2 separate regions of the Homo sapiens genome follow, and region 2 is linked to region 1. Evidence: fine-mapped expression QTL. A gene starts in region 1. The other region holds a variant in brackets. All regions are shown on one strand. Distances are from middle to middle.

What was found. PIP is the estimated chance that this variant, and not a neighbour inherited with it, causes the effect. A credible set is the group of variants that fine-mapping cannot tell apart.
Region 2: its variant is the best candidate, but not a certain one, in a credible set for the expression of CLTA in CD8 T cells (CEDAR, PIP 0.72).

The regions. Positions count from the first base shown.
Region 1 is chr9:36,185,293-36,195,505 of GRCh38, reverse strand. It overlaps CLTA (clathrin light chain A), which reads right to left and starts at 4,585. Exons shown (of 5, transcript NM_001833.4): 1 at 4,233-4,585. The coding sequence starts at 4,449. RefSeq lists enhancers at 4,390-4,609, 4,325-4,950.
Region 2 is chr9:35,765,399-35,775,611 of GRCh38, reverse strand. It overlaps a transcript of RGP1 not described here. Among named protein-coding and RNA genes, the nearest start is that of MSMP, 16 kb to the right of the region's middle. The variant A/G (reference allele first, on the strand shown) is at 5,072.

The sequences.
Region 1 (10,213 bases):
TCATGGTGGCTTTGTTGTGCCAATCTTATTTCCAGTGAGGTAATCACATACCCGACACCTGATTTTCTTCTTTACTGAATTTTCTGAGTTTGCCTATTTTCCTGCTATTTTTTGATCTCTAAGTATTTGCTCTCTAATAGTCAAATATTTTCCCTAGTTTCTCTTTTGATTTGGTTTATGGTATTTAACACTTGGAACAACTTAATTTGTGTATGTAGACATGATCGACTTTTTCTTCATGATTTCTGTATCTGCTTTTATGCTGAAGGCCTTTCCTATTATGAGATAGACAAATACTCACTTTTCTTCTTTTACTTTTTAAATGTCTCTCTTTAATCCACCTGGAATTTATTTTTGTGTAAGACAGAAGAGTGAGATAGTTTTAAATCCTAGATCCTACAGTGGCTAGTCTGGCCAGGCCTACATTATGGTTAATATAGTACAATTGACATACCAACTATCCACTAATATAGTCCAGCCCTGGGCTGGAATATGAGAGACTTTGATCACTACTCCATATACAAAACAAGAAGCAATCCTCATCCCACATCTCCTTAAAAATCACATGCTGTCTGAAGGCTCCTCCAGACCCACTGGCATCTGCTTTCCTCTTTATTAGTTACTGTATTACTGCACTAACATTCTTACAAGAATCAACTGGCTCAAGCCAAGGGATCGTCTGTTGCTGTGGAAACATGCAGAAAGGACATGTAGGGCCTTGACTTACTACAACAACTAAACTAAGCAACACGATGCTTCAGAAGGAAACTTTCTAGGGCCTTTCAGGAACTCCAGACAGAAAAAGGGCCAGTTTTCAAAAGTGAAAGACTGTCCCAAACCCACTTTCAACTTTCCACATTCCAGAAACATTTGAAGTCAAGCAGACCTACGTTTGAAGCTGCACTTGAGCCATTTATTACCTTGCTACCTTAGTGACACTGCTCAACTTCCACACCGATCCATTCTCATCTGAAATATGACACTACCACTTAACCTGTGGAGCTACTGCTGGGATCTGAAAGTGTACCTGGTATACAGCAAATGTGCAGTACAATTAACTATCATGCATGAGATTTCCCTAAACTTCCCTCCACCACTGCTACCAATAAAATTACTTCTCCAGAAAGCTTCCCTTTAATTCACCCATGTCTCTTTCTTCTCCTACAAGAAATAACTTGTCACCGGGTGCGGTGGTTCACACCTGTAATTCCAGCACTTTGGGAGGCCAAGGCGGGTGGCTCACCTGAGGTCAGGAGTTTCAGACCAGTCTGGCCAACATGGTGAAACCCCGTCTCTACTAAAAATACAAAAAGTTAGCTGGGCACGGTGGTGGGCGCCTGTAATCCCAGCTACTCGGGAGGCTGAGGCAGGATAACTGCTTGAACCCAGGAGGCGGAGGTTGCAGTGAACCGAGATCGCACCACTGCACTCCAGCCTGGGTGACAGAGCGACTGTCTCAAAAACAACAAAACACCATAATAGTGCCTTACTGCTGTACTCTCTCTGTGGCTTGTCTCTCCTGTTCTCTTCCCCGACTCAGCCCTCATGATTGAGAGCTTTTCAACAGCTCCACTTGTGCTGCCTCCTTCATGACCACCTGTTCTTCCTCAATATCCCCCACAGCTGGTTACCTCAATATCACTTCACCCAGCTGGTTTCTTCCTGCCTCTAAACCTACGTCTCTTTTCTGGATCTCTTAACAACCAAAGGAGTCATCCAAGGCTTAGCCCTAACCCCTCTGGTTTTTGCCTGTGCCCATCCTCCATAGACGCTTTCCGCAAGGCTGGGGCCAGTTTATTTTCCTCTCATCAATCTGTCATAGCTGACTGCCTATATATCTCTGTATAATACATCAGAAAGAGAGCTCCCGCCTAAAACCTCAATTTACTCAGTACACTTCAAAGCCTAAAGGCCTTGTAACTCCTTTCTCCCACTAATAGTAGCTGGAATTCACTAGATACTTAATATAACTGTAAGCACTTTATAGACACTCTTTAATGTAATCCTAAAGATGCCACATAGCATTATAAATTATATTATGCAACTTTTACAAAGGAGAAAACTGAGGCCGGGCAGTGGTGGTAGTTATATACATTGTCTGAGATCACAAAGCTAAACTCACACTCAAGCAGTTTAGGATAGCATAGAATCTTAACCACTAGAGCATATCTTTAAAAAAAAAAAAAAAGAAGGAAAAAGAAAACTAAGAGAGAAAAAGTGTCCAATCAGTTCTCTAAACTCCAAAGGAAATGCTGACCACTGCATATTACCAACTTCAATTACACTGTCAGGAATCTGGCTTTAAGTCACCAAATGCTTAGTTCACTAAGAAAGTCCCTCCTAGGAACTAAGTCAGCAACCATTTCTTTCCTTCCCTTTGCCGAAGGCTTGATGCACAAAGGACCGAGCATCCAACTCTATTCTCTCCCTTTTACCTTCCCTAACTGCCCGTCACCAAGATCTGTCAGTTCTACATAGGACCCTTGGATCTGACATTTTTGCCCATTTCTTTGTCAAACGTGAGCATCTACTACATGTCAGACACACTGCTAGGCAGTGGAGATAAAACAGTAAGGGTAACACTGTCCTTGAATCAGGACAATCTTCCAACTACAGATCTTGGGTTCTGCTTCTCCCAAATCTGTTCCACCTGGGACAGCCACAGCTGCCTGTCTGTTATCGCACTACACCCCTGCTAAAACAACTAAACACTGCAACAGAATGTGGTATATTCTAAGAGTGGGTAGACTTGGGGCTCAGCTATTAACTCGTGCTTTTTTAAGCAAGTCGTTTCTCTCTAGGATTGCTTCTCTTCTATTAAATGAGGAAGGTTAAACTAAGGGTCTAAGAAGTCAATTTTAAAATTCTCAGACAAATGTTAGAGACCACCCAATGAAAATATCCCCTAATCACTTAAGGCCAACTTCATCTCACAATCACAGCCTAGTTTAGTCCAACCTACCCGCTATAAAGTTGCATATTCGGGCATATTACATGTTCCCACTAAGTTCTTATTGGGGGACTGATTTGTTTAGGAAGCAACATGGTGCAGTCAAAAACTCAAGAGGCTGCAAACTAGCAGCACACCCACCAACCCATCCATCAAAAGGTTCCGCCTGGCTGGCACAGTAACTTGAGACTGCTGGATCTGAATGCCTTTACACAGAGCACTACTATAGTGCAGCAAAGCCTCAGTCTCCAACACTTCTACTGTCTCATGTCAAGCCAGCTTCTCTCGTATATGTTACCTACCTGGCTCCTTAAGGTTTGAATTTAGGGTAGACACTACTCCTATATGCCCCAGTAGTGCCCTATTCTCCCTTAGTTGGAATTTTTTAAGTGAATGAAAAGCCGTATTTCATTTCTTCTAGCTAAATTTCCTACTTCTTTGTATTATTAAGTAGGTCTTTTCCACTCATGATCCTAAGCATCACACACAGGTTAAGGCATCCAAAGGTCAAACTGCCATCCTACCTGCCCCATTTTTACTTGAGTTTGGCTGAGAACATTCTCTATTCACCTCTTCATCCCTCCCTGATTGGTTTAGGCTAATCTTGGGTTCTGCTTAGGCAATATTGCCTACCAAAGCTGTTCCCAGAGGAAGAGCTCCAGAAGTCCTAGCTGTAAATCAATCGCTCAACGATAGCAAACTCCTACCGCGCTTGGCAGTTCTTTCTCCAGACCTAGATCATCTTTCGAGTTCCCTACTCCCTCCTTCCTCCTCGTAATCCAACACTCTGTACACCTTAAGTGCTTAAATGCTGAACTGCATTGCTACTTTTGTTTGTATCTCTCAAAAACGATATTTCCATTCTTATTTTTTTCCGCCCTCCTTTTCTAATAACGAGTTCTGTGCTCGGCTCAGACTTATAAGCTTATAAGTCTGGAAAAACTGCGCCAATGCGGTTGCTTCAGAGACCGGACTAAAGGCACAGCAAATGCTTAATGAAAAGTTGCTGAATTGAACGGGCTTCTTCCGGCTCCGGAGCCTGCCACCCTACACTTGCTTTCTCGCTCCGCCCGCGCCCAGAAGCACTCAAACATGCTGAGAACCGAACAGGCTTCTCGAGCCTAGGTTTCTGAAAGACCGGGCCAGGGTCTCGTTTCCTGTTTGCACTGCTCCCTAACCTCCTAATTCAGCAAGGAGCACGAGTCACACAGAAGCTCTCGGACCCACTGTGGACCGAGTTTCCAGACAAGTCCTCTCGCCCCAAACGCGCCCGCACTCTCACCCGGACCCCCCGGCGGCTCGCCGTGCGGCTGGGGCCCGGGGGCGCCGCCGTCCAGGATGGCGAAGGCCTCGTCGTTCTCGATGCCCGCAATCTCGCTCTCTTGCTGCGCCAAGAAGGCCGCAGCCGGGTCTTCTTCGCCGGCGCCGGCCACTCCGTTCCCCAGCGCGGGACCGCCAGGGGCGCCGGCAGGGGCGCCGAACGGATCCAGCTCAGCCATGGCGGGCAACTGAACGGCACGGACACCAACGGTGAGACAAAAACCAACCGACCCACCGACACCACGCCCGGCAGCCACCGCTGTGGTGCCGACTGGGAGAGGAGGACAAGCGCCAGGAGGGAGACGGGTAAAGCGGAAGCCCTACCCGTGTATCCGGTCGGTCTAGGCGGTGTTGCAGAGCCGAAAAGGGAACAACCAATCAGAGGACAACAATGGTTCAGGAGCTACCCAATCAGCAAGTGGAGGGGCGGTCCCCCTAAAACAACTCGTGACTGGGGTAGGGCGGGAGGTGAGGGAGGTGAGCTGCGCGGGCCCCGGGAGGCGGAAGTGCTGCCTGATAGGGAGCGTCCTACCCACCCCGTCTGCTGGAGCTGGACTGACCAGGGACGGCCACCCCTGAGGGGACTCTAGTGCTGCACTGGGAGGTGAGGTGAAGTTAGGGCAGCGACGATTGGCCGATTACTGAAGAGGCATGCCACTTAGGCTTTCTGAACCTCAGTTTCCTCATTCGTAAAATAGAAACAAGAATCCTGCTCTTGCGCCCCCTCCCGGGATTATTAGAAGATTGAATCCTAAAAAAAAAGAAGAAGAAGATTGAATCCTTTTATGGATTTGAGGGTCCCTGGCTTTATAAATTTAAAATATTTAATTCTTTCAGCCAGCCTGGATTATTTGCTCCCTTAGAGCCCATAGATTTACTGTAATTGATTCAGTCCACTCCGATTTTTCTCGCCCATAAGTATTTTTATTTAAAAATGAATATATCTTATCTTCTTCAACGAAGCACTTTTGCAGCCATTACGTCTTTTCGGAGCTAGACAGAAGTTACTAAACCTGGAAAATTCCTTAAGGATCACTTGCTTCAAAGGGAGACACGGTGGCCCTGCTGTTCAAGGAGCGTCAGTGACCCAGAGAGTCAGTGACCAAGAGGAAACGCCTGTCTCCTGGGGACTTCCAAGATACTAGCTACAGTCTCTTATATTTACACCTTTCCTCCCTAAGGACAGCAGGAAAAAGAAAGTTCCGTGTTTCTTTTTAAATCAGGGAGATGTTAATAGCTACATGGCTCATTTTGTCTACACCACAGAAATAACAGTGGTTCCAGTTAATCATGCTCATGTTGAGGGGGAGTGCTTATGCAGGGGCCACCAGAAGACCCCTCTCCTTCACTACCACCACCACCACCCTAAGAAATGAAAAGCCAAAAAAAGAAACCAAAAAACCAGAGGTCAACAAGAAGCTTCCAGAGGTAGTCAGCAGGGGACAAGAAAGTGTTTTTATAAAAAACGCACATATCTTTGATGACAAAAAAAAAGGGATAGCTATGAAGGAAAAATGAAGCAAATAAAAATTATTTAAAGCATATATTTACTTAAAGCATAATTTTAAAGTCATTTAAAGTATGAACCATAGGAAAGTGTTGAAGAAAAACATTTAAGAAAGTTAAAATGTTAGGGTCTGCAATTGATTCTGTTTCCCCTTGTCTGTTGTTTTATGCTCATCCCTAACATACATTGGCAACAGTGCATGAAGTATTTTCACATTAGCCTTGACATAGTCTCATGAGGAAAAGAGGGGCAGGGACTACTATGAGAGAGCCCAAGGAAGACAACTTTTAGTTGCTCACAACAGTAGTAGCTCCGGAACAGACAGCATTCTTTTTGGGGAAATGCATGACTTTGGGAGAAACTCTCCTGTGATTCCCTTGCTAGAGGAGGCATTACATATTATGCAAAAGCAACAAACAAGTATACACTCAAAATTGGAGGAATAGCTGATGTGTTTACGGATGATTTCACAGAGGTGGCTTGGAGCTCAGTTTTGAAATATGGGGAACGTTTAGAAGAGTCAATAATGAGGGTCTAATGTTAGTGTCATGTAAAAGTTCAGAGGTGGGAAAATGTTTGGCATGTTTTGGGGACAGTGAGTAAATTAGTTGGAGTCTGAAGAGCTCAGCAAGATGAATAATTGAAGGAAAATCTGGGGACAGATTCTGGAGCCCTGAAAGCATTCCATGTTAAGGAATCTTAATGGCAATAAGGAACCATAGAAGGTTTCAGATAAAGGAATGTTTTGATCAACTGCTGCTTAGGAGGTTAATCGGGTCCCTGGTTGCAGGATGGATGGGGCAGAGGCTGTGGGCAGAGATGTCAGGAGTGACATGATGAAGGTCTGGGCAGGGCAGAGGTATGGAGCTGAGTGGGGAGCGTTGATGGGAAAGCGGGTCCCAGTAGGGAAGTGACTAACTTGGTGACCGACCAGAGGTACGGGCTGGGAAAAAGGCAAGGGGAAAGGATGGGGTCATAAATCATGAATCTGTGAAATTGCCAGAACCATTAGTTTGAGGGCTTTGGGGGAGCCCAGGTGATTGCTGGGAGACAGAAGATTTAGAAGATGTCCAGGAACTAGAAGTGTGTAGCCTGCCATGATCCCTGGTGGACTGAACAAAGGTGGGTGGGCAATGGGAATAAAAGACAAGACAAAAGAGTATATTTGGAAGAAGGGGTCAGGGGGCACTTTGCCTCTAGTGGACAAGGGCCCTGAGTTTTACACATCCCTCCGTATTTCGTAGGCAAAAGAGAGCGAGAAAGGGGGGGTGATTGTCGGTAATTGTCAGTTAGAGGTTTGGTTCACAGCAGGCTTGTGAGACTGCATCTTTTGAACAATAGGTGCTAGATTTCTTAGATAACTTCAAGGAGCCCTGCACCAAGGAGTGATGTCCATCAGCAAACCTTTTGGTGGCAGGTGCAGTGTGTTTGCTCACATCCTACATTCATGATAAACAGTTTGCTGTTTGATCATATAGCCTCCAGTGGAATGCTGAGTTGGTCACGATCCCTTTGGCCTTTTCGGCTCCCAACAGAAGTGTGTATAGGAGAGAGTGGGACCACAGATGGAGACTAGAGAGGGAAGGACTGAGGCCTAAATCTTGGAGGATGGCTATATGTGAAGGAGGTAGAGGGGTGGGTCAGAGAGATTGGAGAGGGTTCAGTTAGAGCTGGGTGATGGAAGTCAAGCAGAGTTTGCAGAAGGAAGGAGTGACTAGCAGAAAGGTGAAGAATGAGAGCTGAGCAGATGCTCTTGGCCATCAAGTTCCCTGGTCACCTTGGTGAGAGAGATGTCAGTGGATGCCAGGAGTGGAAATCAGTTTGCACTAGGTTGAGGGATGGAAGCATAGTGGACATCTGTTGGTTCTGCCTGCCTACATCCAATTCCCTTTGTTCTGATACCAGCACTCCAATATTCCTTTGGGGAACCATTCTTCCTCATTTTCAGTTTTGTGGTTTGGATTGAGTGGACCACCCCCATGTGACCCAGGCCTGGCCAATTAGAACATCCCATTCCCTGCCCAAATGATTGGGAATGGACAAGTGAGTCAAACCAGGCTCATGAGGCTCAATTCCAGGACTGTTACTAGAATCTTAGGGAAAGAGCTAACTCTTTCTGCTGGAGCTGACAAGCAGGCAAAGTGTAAGCTTAGAGCTTCTTGTGGTCATCTTGTCATCAAGAGGAGAGATTGAGAGTGAGAATGAGGTCAACATGGAGGAATGCAGAGAGTGAGAAAGACAACTTCCTGTTGGTATCATTGAGGACCTGGATTCAGCCATGCTTGAAGTGAAAGATCTACTTCTGTACTTTTTGGCTCTGTGAACAAATAAATTCTATTTTTTTTCCCCTTAAGACAATTTTGAGTTGTGTTTCTGTCATAAAGAATTCTGCCTAATCCAGGCCAGGCACAGTGGCTCACGCCTATAATCCCAGCACTTTGGGAGGCCAAGATGGGTGGACCATTTGAGGTCAGGAGTTCGAGACCAGCTTGGACAACATTGTGAGACCCCGTCTCCACTAAAAATACAAAAATTAGCCAGGCATGGTAGTGTGCACCTGTAATTCCAGCTACTCAGGAGGCTGAGGTAGGAGAATCGCTTGAACCCAGGAGGCGGAGGTTGCAGTGAGCCGAGATCACGCTGCTGCACTCCAGCCTGGGCAACAGTGTGAGACTCTGTCTCAAAAAAAAAAAAAAAAAAAAAAGAATTTTGCCTAATATAGAATGAGAAGTGAGGGCAAATTTAAATGTAGAAGACATTAGAAAACTTTGCAGCCGGGCACCGTGGCTCACACCTGTAATCCCAACACTTTGGGAGGCCGAGGAGGGTGGATCATCTGAGGTCAGGGGTTCGAGACCAGCCTGACCAACATAAAGAAACCCCGTCTCTACTAAAAATACAAAATTAGCTGGGTGTGGTGGCACATGCCTGTAATCCCAGCTAACTCGGGAGGCTGAGGCAGGAGAATCACTTGAACCCAGGAGGCGGAGGTTTGCGGTGAGCCGAGATCACGCCATTGCACTCCAGTCTGGGCAACAAGAGTGAAACTCCGTCTCAAAAAAAAAAAAAAAAAAAAAAAAAAGGTTTGCAATGAGGGCCGGGCATGGTGGCTCATGCCTATAATCCCAGCACTTTGGGAGGCTGAGGCGGGCAGATCACTTGAGGCCAGGAGTTTAAGATCAGCCTGGCCAACATGGCAAAAACTCACCTCTACTAAAAATATAAAAATTAGCCGGACATGGTGGCATGTGCCTGTAGTCCCGGCTATTGGAGAGGCTGAGGCATGAGAATTGCTTGAACCTGGGAGGTGGAGGTTGCAGTGAGCTGAGATCATCCCACTGCACTCCTGCCTGGGTACAGAGTGAGACTCCATCTCAAAAAAAAAAAAGGAAAGGGGAAAGGAGGAAAGGAGGGAGAGCTGTGGCTAGAGAGGGCTCTAAGGTTGGGGTGATGTTTAGGTAAGAGAGACTTGAATGCTTGAATACATTTGTATGCCGAAGATAGAGGTTGAAGTCATAGAAGAAGGAGAGGTGGTGGGAAGGATGGGCTAAGGAGGGAGGATTTTAGAGGCAGAGACAAGGCTGAGGACAACTCTGAGGGACTCAATTGCTCCAGTAAAGTGAGAACCAGTAGAAAAGAGAGGAGAGGTTTAGAACCACCAAGGGGAAACTCAATAGATGATGGCCAAGAAAGACCTAGAAGGACTGTATTGTTCTAGTCAGGGTTCTCCAGAGAAACAGAATCAATAGAAGATGCATAATATGTATACATGTATATATATCCATATGCTGGGGAACAAAACACCATGGATTGGGTGGCTTAAACAGCAGAAATTAATTTTCTCACTGTACTAGAGGTTAGAAGTTCAAGATTAAGGTTCCAGCTGATTTGGTTCTAGTGAGGGCTCTCTTCTTGGTTTGCAGATGGCCACCTTCACTCTGTCCTCACATGGCCTTTTCTCTTATGTCTCTTATAAGGGCACTAATCATATTGGATCTAGGCTCTACCCCATATTACCTTATTTAACTTAATTAGTTCCTTAGAGGCCTCTACTCCAAATATAGCCACACTTGGGGTTAGGGCTTCAACATGAAGTTCTGAGGGGACACAAATACATAGTCCATAGTAATGTGTATATCTCTGTGAATGTGTATATATACATGTATAATACATATATACATGTATGTATATGCATATACATGCATGCACAAATATATACATATATGTATACATGTGCATATGCACATACATGCATACATACATGCATATATGTGCATGCATGTATATACATATGTATATGTGCATACACATATATATACACATGCATGTGCATGTATGCATACATGCATATACATAGGCACATACATACGTGTATGGATACGTGCATACATACGTGTATGCATGCATACATACATATATACACATGTATACATACA
Region 2 (10,213 bases), 420 kb after region 1:
GCAAGCTTATGTGGAAGCGTGTGTAGTAAATGGTGGCGCTCCTTCCCATTCCCTCCACAGATGGCTTCCTGCTGAGCTCAGTCAGGGAGGCACTGGCAGAAAACTGAACGAGAGAAGCCAGACTATCTCTTCCCCTTCTCTCCCAGCCTTGGCCAGCATCTGGACAGGCACTCTTTGGCCCCAGCTTCCCTAGAACAGGCCCCCAAAGTTCCGGCTTCTAAGTTACCCTGCCCCTTGCACTTCCCCTCCTTCCCACAGCCTAGGGAGAATAGAAGGTTCGGTTGCTAATCTTCCCCTGCATTGCCTCACCTTCCCTTGAAAGGCTTCTCAGCTCTTCCACCATATTCACAGCCAGCTAATTCTCTGGATTAAATGCCCTCTGGTTTAAATGCTTAGAGTGAGTTCTGTTTTCCTGTTTGGACCCTAAATCTGGCAGCTAAACAAAAAAAAATGAATTTACTGCACTGAGGGCAAAGACCCTGGCTCCAAAACTGCCAAGTTCAAGGTTCACTGCTATCAGTGTGGGTCCATCCAGATGGAGTAATATAGAGGAGTGAAGAGACAGAACTGATTTCCCTTTTCTCCCAAAGGAACACAGGAGAGAAAATGAATTTGGAGAAAACAGAGAGAAAAGGGTATTATAAATTTCCTGCTTCCCAATCCTCGAGACAATATGGGGAGGAGGCTGCTGAAAAAGACAAGGATGTGACTGAAGCCCCCCCCACCAAAATTTGGGATGAGTCAAAGAGGGGAATTGACCTGTATAAAAACCAAAAACACTGAAAAGATTATAGTACTCCCCTCCTCCAAAAAAGAAATAAAAATAAAATCAATAAATTCAAATTTCCCCATAGTAACTATTTCCATGTTTTTTTTTGTTTTGTTTTTGAGACAGAGTCTTGCTCTGTCGCCCAGGATGGAATGCAGCGGCACAATCTCGGCTCACTGCAAGCTCCGCCTCCCGGGTTCACGCCACTCTCCTGCCTCAGCCTCCCCAGTAGCTGGGACTACAGGCGCCCGCCAACACGCCCGGCTATTTTGTATTTTTAGTAGAGACGGGGTTTCACCGTGTTAGCCAGGATGGTCTCTATCTCCTGACCTCGTGATCCACCCGCCTCAGCCTCCCAAAGTGCTGGGATTACAGGCGTGAGCCACCGCGCCCGGCCAAGTACTTCCATGTTTTTAAAAACACAGCAACATCCTTTCCTCCAAATCTATTTAGTACCACTGCTTTGCTGGGACCCTAAAGGCACACACTTAGTCTGCCTACCGGGTCATCCAGCAAAAGGCCTGTGCAGCCTGCCCTGACCAGAGCTGAGCACAGTCAGTCTCTCAGGGAGGGAGGCGTTTGCTGCCATGGGGGAGCAAGGTGCTGAGGCTGAGTCTCCTGAGGACCCAGCAGTGGTAGAACTGGGGTATGACCCCTTCAGAGTCCCATGTACATTCAACGAAAACCGGAATAACCCAGATTAACCATTCACTTCATTCAACCAACTTATAATAATTTTTGACTGTTTTAATGAAATTTATCATCAGAGAATAAAGTTTGTGCACCAATACACATTTTTTAAAGTGGCTATAAAACTGAAATAACAATGGATTGTTTTTTCACATATAAAAAGATCTTCAGAAATAATAATACGGGCCAGGTGTGGTGGCTCACACCTGCAACCCCAACACTGGGAGTCCAAGGCAGGAGGATTGCTTGAGCTCAGGAGTTCAAGACCAGCCTGGGCAACATAGCAAGACCCCATCTCTTTTATTTATTTTAAAAATTAAATAAATAAATAATTTTTAAAAAGAAACCTGGGGCTGGGCTCGGTGGCTCACGCCTGTAATCCCAGCATTTTGGGAGGCCAAGGTGGGTGGATTATCTGAGGTCAGGAGTTCGAGACCAGCCTGGCCAACATGATGAAACCCCATCTCTACTAAAAACACAAAAATTAGCCAGGCCTAGTGGCATGCGCCTGTAGTCACAGCTACTTGGGAGGCTGTGGCAGGAGAATCGCTTGAATCCAGGAGGCAGAGGTTGCAGTGAGCCAAGATAGCACCACTGCATTCCAGCCTGGGTGACAAAGCAGCCTCCGTCTCAAAAAAAAAAAGAAAAAGGAAACCTGGAACAGTATAAATCAAAATGTTAAGAGTGACTGTCTCTTTAGGAATAGTATGTGTTAGAATTTATACATATATATTTCTTTTCTTTTCTTTTCTTTCTTTTTACTTAAGACAGGTTCTTACTCTGTCATCCAGGCTGACAGAGTAGTGCGATCTCAGCTCACTGCAGGCTCAACCTCCTGGGCTCAAGCAATCCTCCTGCCTCAGCCTCCTGAGTAGCTGGGATTATAGGCATTCACCACCACACCTGGCTATTTGTTTTTTATTTTTCGTAGAGACAAGGTCTCACTATATTGCCCAGGCTGGTCTTGAACTCCTGGGCTCAAGTGATCCTCCCGACTCAGCCTCCCAAAGTGCTGGGGTAACAGGTGTGAGCCACCATGCCTGGCTGTACTTTTCAATAATTATGTATTACTTTTGCAATAAGAAGCTATATATGGGTTTTTTTAAGGTACCACAAGGATAAAAGAATACCAAAGGACTTTTTGTAAATGTCACTGAAATAGGTCTGTAGTCTCCACTTAACAAATACACCAGTAAAGTTTGAGAGTTTTATGTATAAATTACCAGCATATTTGTTTATGAAGACATATTACTTTAAAACACAACTTTATAGCTCATTTATACAACCCCACCACAGTTAGTATGCAGCTCAAAAAATATTTGTTGAATAGTCTAGTATAAAACTTTTTTTTTTTTTTTTTTTGAGACAGAGTCTCGCTCTGTTGCCCAGGCTGGAGTGCCGTGGTCCGATCTCGGCTCACTGCAAGCTCCGCCTCCCAGGTTCACGCCATTCTCCTGCCTCAGCCTCCTGAGTAGCTGGAACTACAGGCGCCCGCCACCACGCCCGGCTAATTTTTTGTATTTTTAGGAGATGGGGTTTCACCGTGTTAGCCAGGATGGTCTCGATCCCCTGACCTCATGATCCGCCTGCCTCGGCCTCCCAAAGTGCTGGGATTACAGCCGTGAGCCACCGCGCCTGGCCTCTAGTATAAAATTTTTACAAATGATCTGGATGAAGAAGAATACAGTGGAGTTGTTAGTTTGCATATGACAGTAAGTTCCTCCAGTTACACATCAGTCACATTTGATGTTACTGTCATCTACTTAAAACTCTTACCATGGTTTCTATAATAGCTCATACTCATAGTCATCCTTCCATCTCAATATCCAGCTGATGTCTCCCCGTGATGAAGATCCTCTTCTTCCTCTGAGCTCGAAGCTCCCCATCTCCAGGCTCTAGTCCTCAGATTTCTGCATTCTTCTTTCCACACTCATTTCCTTGGTGAGTTAATCCATAACCATGCCGTCACCTGTCACCTTGATGCATATAACTGACAGTAGAAAATGACCTTGTTTCACTGGGTGTGGGCATATGTGTCACTGTTGCTACATATGTAAGGTATCTCAATATTGCACAACAGTAATTAATAGAATTGTGTAGTACAACTCCCCAAGGAAAAGATTGCTTGGAATATTTGAGAAAGAGTTGTTGGCACAAATGGCAACTCCTGCCTCCCCTCCCCCAAAAGCAAACCAAATAAAAATAATACATAAATAGAAAAAAAGTGAGCAAAGCATGTGTCTAAAATTCTCAGGTTTATGGTGTTATACCTTGTTTGGGGAAGGAAGGAAGAAACTATGTAAATGCAATAATTGGCAAACGGAAGATAGAGAAAAAAGGTCTTAGAGTCTACATTTTTAAAACTCACTTACATGAACAAAGTACACATTTTTATCAATCACATCTTTGTTTTTTAATTTTTCTGGCAGTCAGTCCCAGCCAGCTGGATTACAGCCAGATTACTCTTGTGTACTCAGCTTTAAGGCAAACCTAACTGCCTCCCTTCTCTTCCAATCAGATTTCTCCCCTTAAGCTTCTCCTACATAGAAATTACAACCCACCACTTAAACCCAGGGTATGTTAAATTTAGGTCCTGAAATAAGCTAAGAGCTAGCCTCAGACCCAATTCACAGAACATAGAGATTATAGATTTTTGGAATTAGAAGACAGCAATTTTGGGCTAATTTTTCATCAATCTTCACTGAAGGGTAGAACTACTAACCTTAACATCTAGCTAATAAATATGTTTCAGAAAAGCAAAACGGGAGAGAAGGAGATGGTTAAGGAGAACAGAACTTCCAAGGCTCAGAACCACTAACACCTCCAGAAGGGGTAAAGGAAGCATCTAATCATATCTAGGCCAATAAAGCTGGCTGTGCTCCGGGCTGACTGCTTTTTAGGACAGTGTGTAAGGACACTGGTTCCGGGACTTGCCAGCCAAGCAGAGGGGTTACTATAAATATTTGTTACGGAAGTTACTCCTCAGAAAAGGAGTGCTAGCCAAACTAAACCAAGATCAAGAGCCAAGGAGAATCAACTGGGCTAGAGAATCAGAGGGGCAAAGATAGAGGCAAAGACAGAGAAAAAAATTAAGTTCAGCTTCTAGAAATGATAAAAGGGCAACAAAATTAATGGGATGCTTCAGATCCAGAGACTGAAATTCACTCTGATCCTACCAAACCTCACCAGGTTAAAGGTTTACCCTGAAGATATAATACGCCTGTGTGAGTACCTGTTCTTTCCTCTGAACCCCTGCTACTTCCTGGAGTTCAGGTTTTCTTCAGATTTGACAGGCAGAAGGCTGCTCTATTTATTAGGGAGATGCTTAGCGGAGGCTGGGAGCTCCAGGTGTGCTCCTCTGATCCTCTGTAGCCTACTCACTCATTCAATTATTATAAGTAACCTAAGCATCTCCAGGAGTGCAGCCAAACACTCTTAACACTCCCCTACAGCTGACTGTAGTGGTACACCCTCCATGACACCACACTGTCCAGGTTTCTTCCAACCAGCTGGCAGCTCTTTCTCAGTCTCTTACTGACCCTTCCTTCTCTACCTGCCCCTGGGTTGATTGATGATCCTCAGGGATCTATTCTAGATTTCGTTTTCCACTCA[A/G]CTCTCTCTCTCTCTCTCTCTCTCTCTCTCTCTCTCTCTCTCTCTCTCCATGGTAATACCTATGCCCATTGCTCCAATAACCAATTTCTATGTGCCAAGAATGAATCACCAGTCCATTTCTATCAGCTTTCAAATCATATACCTAATTGCCCACAGGATATCTTCACTTGATGGTCTTGTAAGAACTTTGAACTCAACATCCAAACAAGACACATGATTTTCCTCCAAAATATCTTCCCACCCAGTGTTCTCCTACTCAGCAAAGGACACTATCATCCACATAGGTGCTCAGCCAAAAACCTCAGTTATTCTTGAATTCTCCATCTCCCTCACTACTCTCCACATCTAAGCCTTGCTGGACATACCTCCAAAATATGCCCCAAATCTATCTTCCCTACTACCTCTACCCTATGCAGTTCAAACCACCATCATCCTTCATCTGGACTAATTAACAATCCCTTAACTTGTCTCCCAGCATCTAGTGTTGATCCACTCCAACCCACACTATAAAACATTCAAAATGCAGTACTGGTAAGAATCTTAGGCGGAGAAACTGAAGCAGTCCCTGCCCCCAGGTTTGGCAGTGAAGGAGCTGAAATGAACCAGACATGCAGATTTGAACTACATTAAAATTTTTAAGTTAATTTTTTTAATGCAGTGCTGGCAAAGTCAATCCTCTGCATAAAACTCTTGAATAGCTTCCCATTGTGCTTAGGATGAAATACAAACAACTGATCCTGAATTTCAAGGTGCCCCATGGTCAGGTCCCTGCCTCTCTTCAGCCTCATCTCACGTCACATCCCTCTTCCTCATCCTCTACACTCTAGACACACTGAACTTTTGTTCCTTTAATTTCTCTCATCTTTGCACGTTGTTCCTTCTGCCTGAAACTTTCTTCCGACTTTTCATCTGATTACCTCAAAATCATTATTAGATCACAGCACAAACCTTCCTACTTCCTTTACAAACTATGTTCTCCCAAATATGTGTACTCCAATAAGACTCTGTATTTTCTCAGTAATATTTCTGAAGCTTAATATTGCTCAAACTTCATTGTATTCATGTGTGTTTATTCCCTTATCTCTACAAAATACTGTGTCCTCAGTGCCTAGCACAGTACATGGCATAACAGACTCAATAAAAGAATGAGCGAATGAGAAAAAAAATGAATGACAAAATCAGGGTGGGTTGAGCTCCTCAGGGTGAGGAGAGATAACAGGTGGATGCTGATGGAAACAGCATCAAGGACAACAAGACAAGAACCTGTCCTCCCAAGTCTGACAGGGCCAGGTACAGTAGATGTGTTTCAACCACATGGTTCTTTCTTCCTTGGCAATGGGTGCAGCCAGGGCTGTGACACTGGTGGTGCTGAGGCAGGTACACATGGGCACGCAGTGCCCCTGCAGCTGAGTGCACCTAGCCCCCTGCTCAGCTAGGCCGCTTGCTACCTAACTTATCTCAAATGGGCCCAATCAGTCCCTCCTGGACACAGTAAACAGGCCTGCCTCATTCCACATTCAGTCCTGCCTCAGTTTATCGAAAGTGGTGGGTGAGCTGAGGGCACCCTCTACTCACATGAAGGTCTTGTGCATCTTCACAGTTGCCTACATTGTCCCTCTTAAGCCCCCAAACCAGTTTAACGTAGTCCTATCTGATCATTTAATGTCTTTTTAGGTACTGCTCAGACTCTCCTGAATAAAAACTGCTCAGTCTCTCAGATAGCAACCCCTCTCCTGCTTATCTACCTGAGATGGATCTGGATATATCAGGGGAAGGGGACTTCATAGCAGCAGGAAAAAGTTGCAACCCTTGAGGAAGTGCTCCTCTAGCTTCTTAAGATCTCCAGGCCAATGTTCCTTTGCCCCTGTTTGCTGCTTACTCTGCTGGCAACCATGGTCCAGCTCTGTGCTAGTATAACTCCAGGGTCTCTCTCAGCCTGGAGATAGCCTGAGTGGTACCCTCTGGCAGAATAAATTGCACCATCTTCCCCTGGCACTATTTTTTCTGAGTGTGGTTGTGATACCTATTGCACCCCTCAGATGCATGCAACAGAAACCCTTCATAGTCTCTGTGCCAAGGGCTTCCCTGTTGCACATAGGGAATGCCCCACATCTTGACCTCCAGGGTCAGACATCTCCATAAAGTCTCACTGATGTCTCTTTCAAAATAACCTGTCCACGGCCAGGCACAGTGGCTCACATCTGTAATCCCAGCACTCTGGGAGGCCAAGGTGGGTGGATCGCTTGAGCTCAGGAGTTCAAGACCAGCCTGGGCATCATGGTGAAACCTCATCTCTACAAAAAACACAAAAATTAGCCAAGAGTGGTGGCACATGCTTGTGGTCCCAGCTACTTGGGAGGGTGAGGTGGGAGGATGCAGTGAGCCACTGCATCAGAGCGACAGAGCCAGACCTTGTCTTAAAGAAAAAAAAAAAAAATCTGGCCAGGCACAGTGGCTCATGCCTATAACCCCAGCAATTTGGGAGGCTGAGGCGGGCAGATCACCTGAGATCAGGAGTTGGAGACCAGTCTGGTCAACATAGCGAAACCCTGTCTCTACTAAAAATACAAAAACTTAGCTGGGTGTCATGGTGGGCGCCTGTAATCCCAGCTACTCAGGCTGAGGCACAAGAATCGCTTGAACCTGGGAGGCGGAGGCTGCAATGAGCTGAGATCGTGCCACTGCACTCCAGCCTGGGTGACAGAGTGCAAAACAACAACAACAACAAATGTCCACTTAATGTCTACATTTCTTTTCCTATTATCTAGTTCTAGTCTTACCAGGCTATGTCCAGGCTCAGCAAGAAAGAATGCCATGATGAATTTAATGATGTCTGCTATGGATAGATGATAAAGGAATCAAGCCATGAATAACGTATTTGCTGATGTAATCTTTTTCCTCAAATCCATCAATATAAATTAATCTGCCCTCTTTATTTGTATCTACTGAAATCCTACTCATCATCCAAGACTAGATCATAGAGCTCATCCTGCTCTGATTTAACCCTATTTATTATTTGGCTATTTAATATTGGTATTAGTTTATAAATGTTAATAGTAAATGGAACTTATTTTTGATACTTGAAGTGGCTTGAAGAATGGTGGTATCATTAACACATAGTATGACTCATTTTAAGGAACACATGAATGGCTAATTATAGAAGGTATCTGGTCCTCTGGCTATCAGAAAAGAGATCTAAGAGTTCTCTAAATGTAGTATTAATGAACTCTTTCGGCAAAAAAAAAAAAAAAAAAAAACCAATTTGCTTAAACCAAAGAAAAGAGCATTAAGGCTGGTCATTACACCTCAACAGTAACAGGAACATGAGATCATTTGATATGATTCTGCATGCAGTACTGCTCTATCACATGACACATTGTATTATAGTTGGCCGTATGCAGCCCCAGATTCCCTTTTCTCTGCAGATCAGTGACTCTTTTTGGAAAGAGGTTCATGCTCTATCATACAATAATATTAAGAAGATTACCAACAATCTAAAATGCTTCCTTCAACTGAGGTTTTGAGAAATCACAGAGAGGCAACAACATTTTTCTTGACTTTACTGTATATACAATGGAGGCTCATTATAATAAAAACACAATTTCACCCACTCAAATATAAACTCCAAGGGAGCAAGGACATTGTCTAGTGTTTTCATTACTGTATCTCCAGTGCCTGACTCAGAGTAGGTAATCTATATATATTTTACTACTGAACAGTTACTACTTAATCAATATTAGATGAAGATAATATAATACACAGAACAAAAGTTTAATATTTCTATTCTACAACCTGTCTTTTGAAAGAGGCAGTCATCTTTATTCCAGATTCTTCCTTTCCTACTGTGTCTTTTGTGCAGTGAGAACAAAATTAAGCATGCGATCAAAATGGATCATAGACATAAAAGACCTAAATGTAAAAGCTGAAATCATAAAACTTTTAGATATAGGAGAAAATGTAGGAAAAAAATCTTTGTGACCTGGTGTAAGGGAAGATTTCTTATGCAGGATACAAAAAACACTAGCCATACAAGAAAAAAGCAAAACATTAGACTTCACCAAAATTTAAAACTTCTGCTCCTCAAAAGACACTATAAAGAAAATAAAAAGGCAAGCCACCAATTAGGGGAAAATATTTTTAATTCATATACTCACAAAGGACTTGTATCCAGAATATATAAAGAACTCTTAAAACTCAGTAACAAGAAGCCAAACATTCCAGTTTTTTAAATGGGCAAATACTTTGAATAGATTTCACCAAATATGAGATACTGGTGACAAGAAAGCACATAAAAAGATGCTCAATGTCATTAAACATTAGGAAAATGCAAATTAAAACCACAATGAGGCAGCACTACACACCTACTAGATTTTTTTTTTTTTTTTTTTTTTTTAAGAAACTGACAATACTAAGGCCGGCACGGTGGCTCATGCCTATAATCCCAGCACTTTGGGAGGCCGAGGTGGGCAGATCACAAGGTCAGATCGAGATCATCCTGGCTAACATGGTGAAACCCCGTCTCTACTAAAAATAAAAAAATTAGCCAGGTATGGGGACGGGTACCTGTAGTCCCAGCTACTCAGGAGGCTGAGGCAGGAGAATGGCGTGAACCCAGGAGGTGGAGTTTGCAGTGAGCCGAGATCATGCCACTGCACTCCAGCCTGGGCAACAGAGCGAAACTCTGTCTCATAAAAAAAAAAAAAAAGAAAGAAAGAAGAAACTGACAATACTAAGTGCTGACAAGGATGCAAAGCAACTGGAACTCTCATATAATGCTGGTAAGTGGAAAATGGTACAGACTCTTTGGAAAACAGTATGGCACTTCTCTTTTTTAAAAATTTATCTTATTTTATGAATAAATCAGTAACTTTTTTTTTTTTTTTTGAGACAGGGTCATGCTTTGTTACCCAGGCTGGAGTGCAGAAGCAAGATCATGGCTCACTGCAACCTCCGCCTCCTACACTCAGATGATCCTACCACCTCAGCTTCCCGAGTAGCTGGGACTACAGGCCTGGGCCACCACACCCAACTAATTTTTGTATTTTTTGTAGAGATGGGGTTTCACCATGTTGTCCAAGCTGGTCTCAAACTCCTGGACTCAAGCAGTCTGCCTGCTTTGGCCTCCCAAAGTGCTGGGATTAC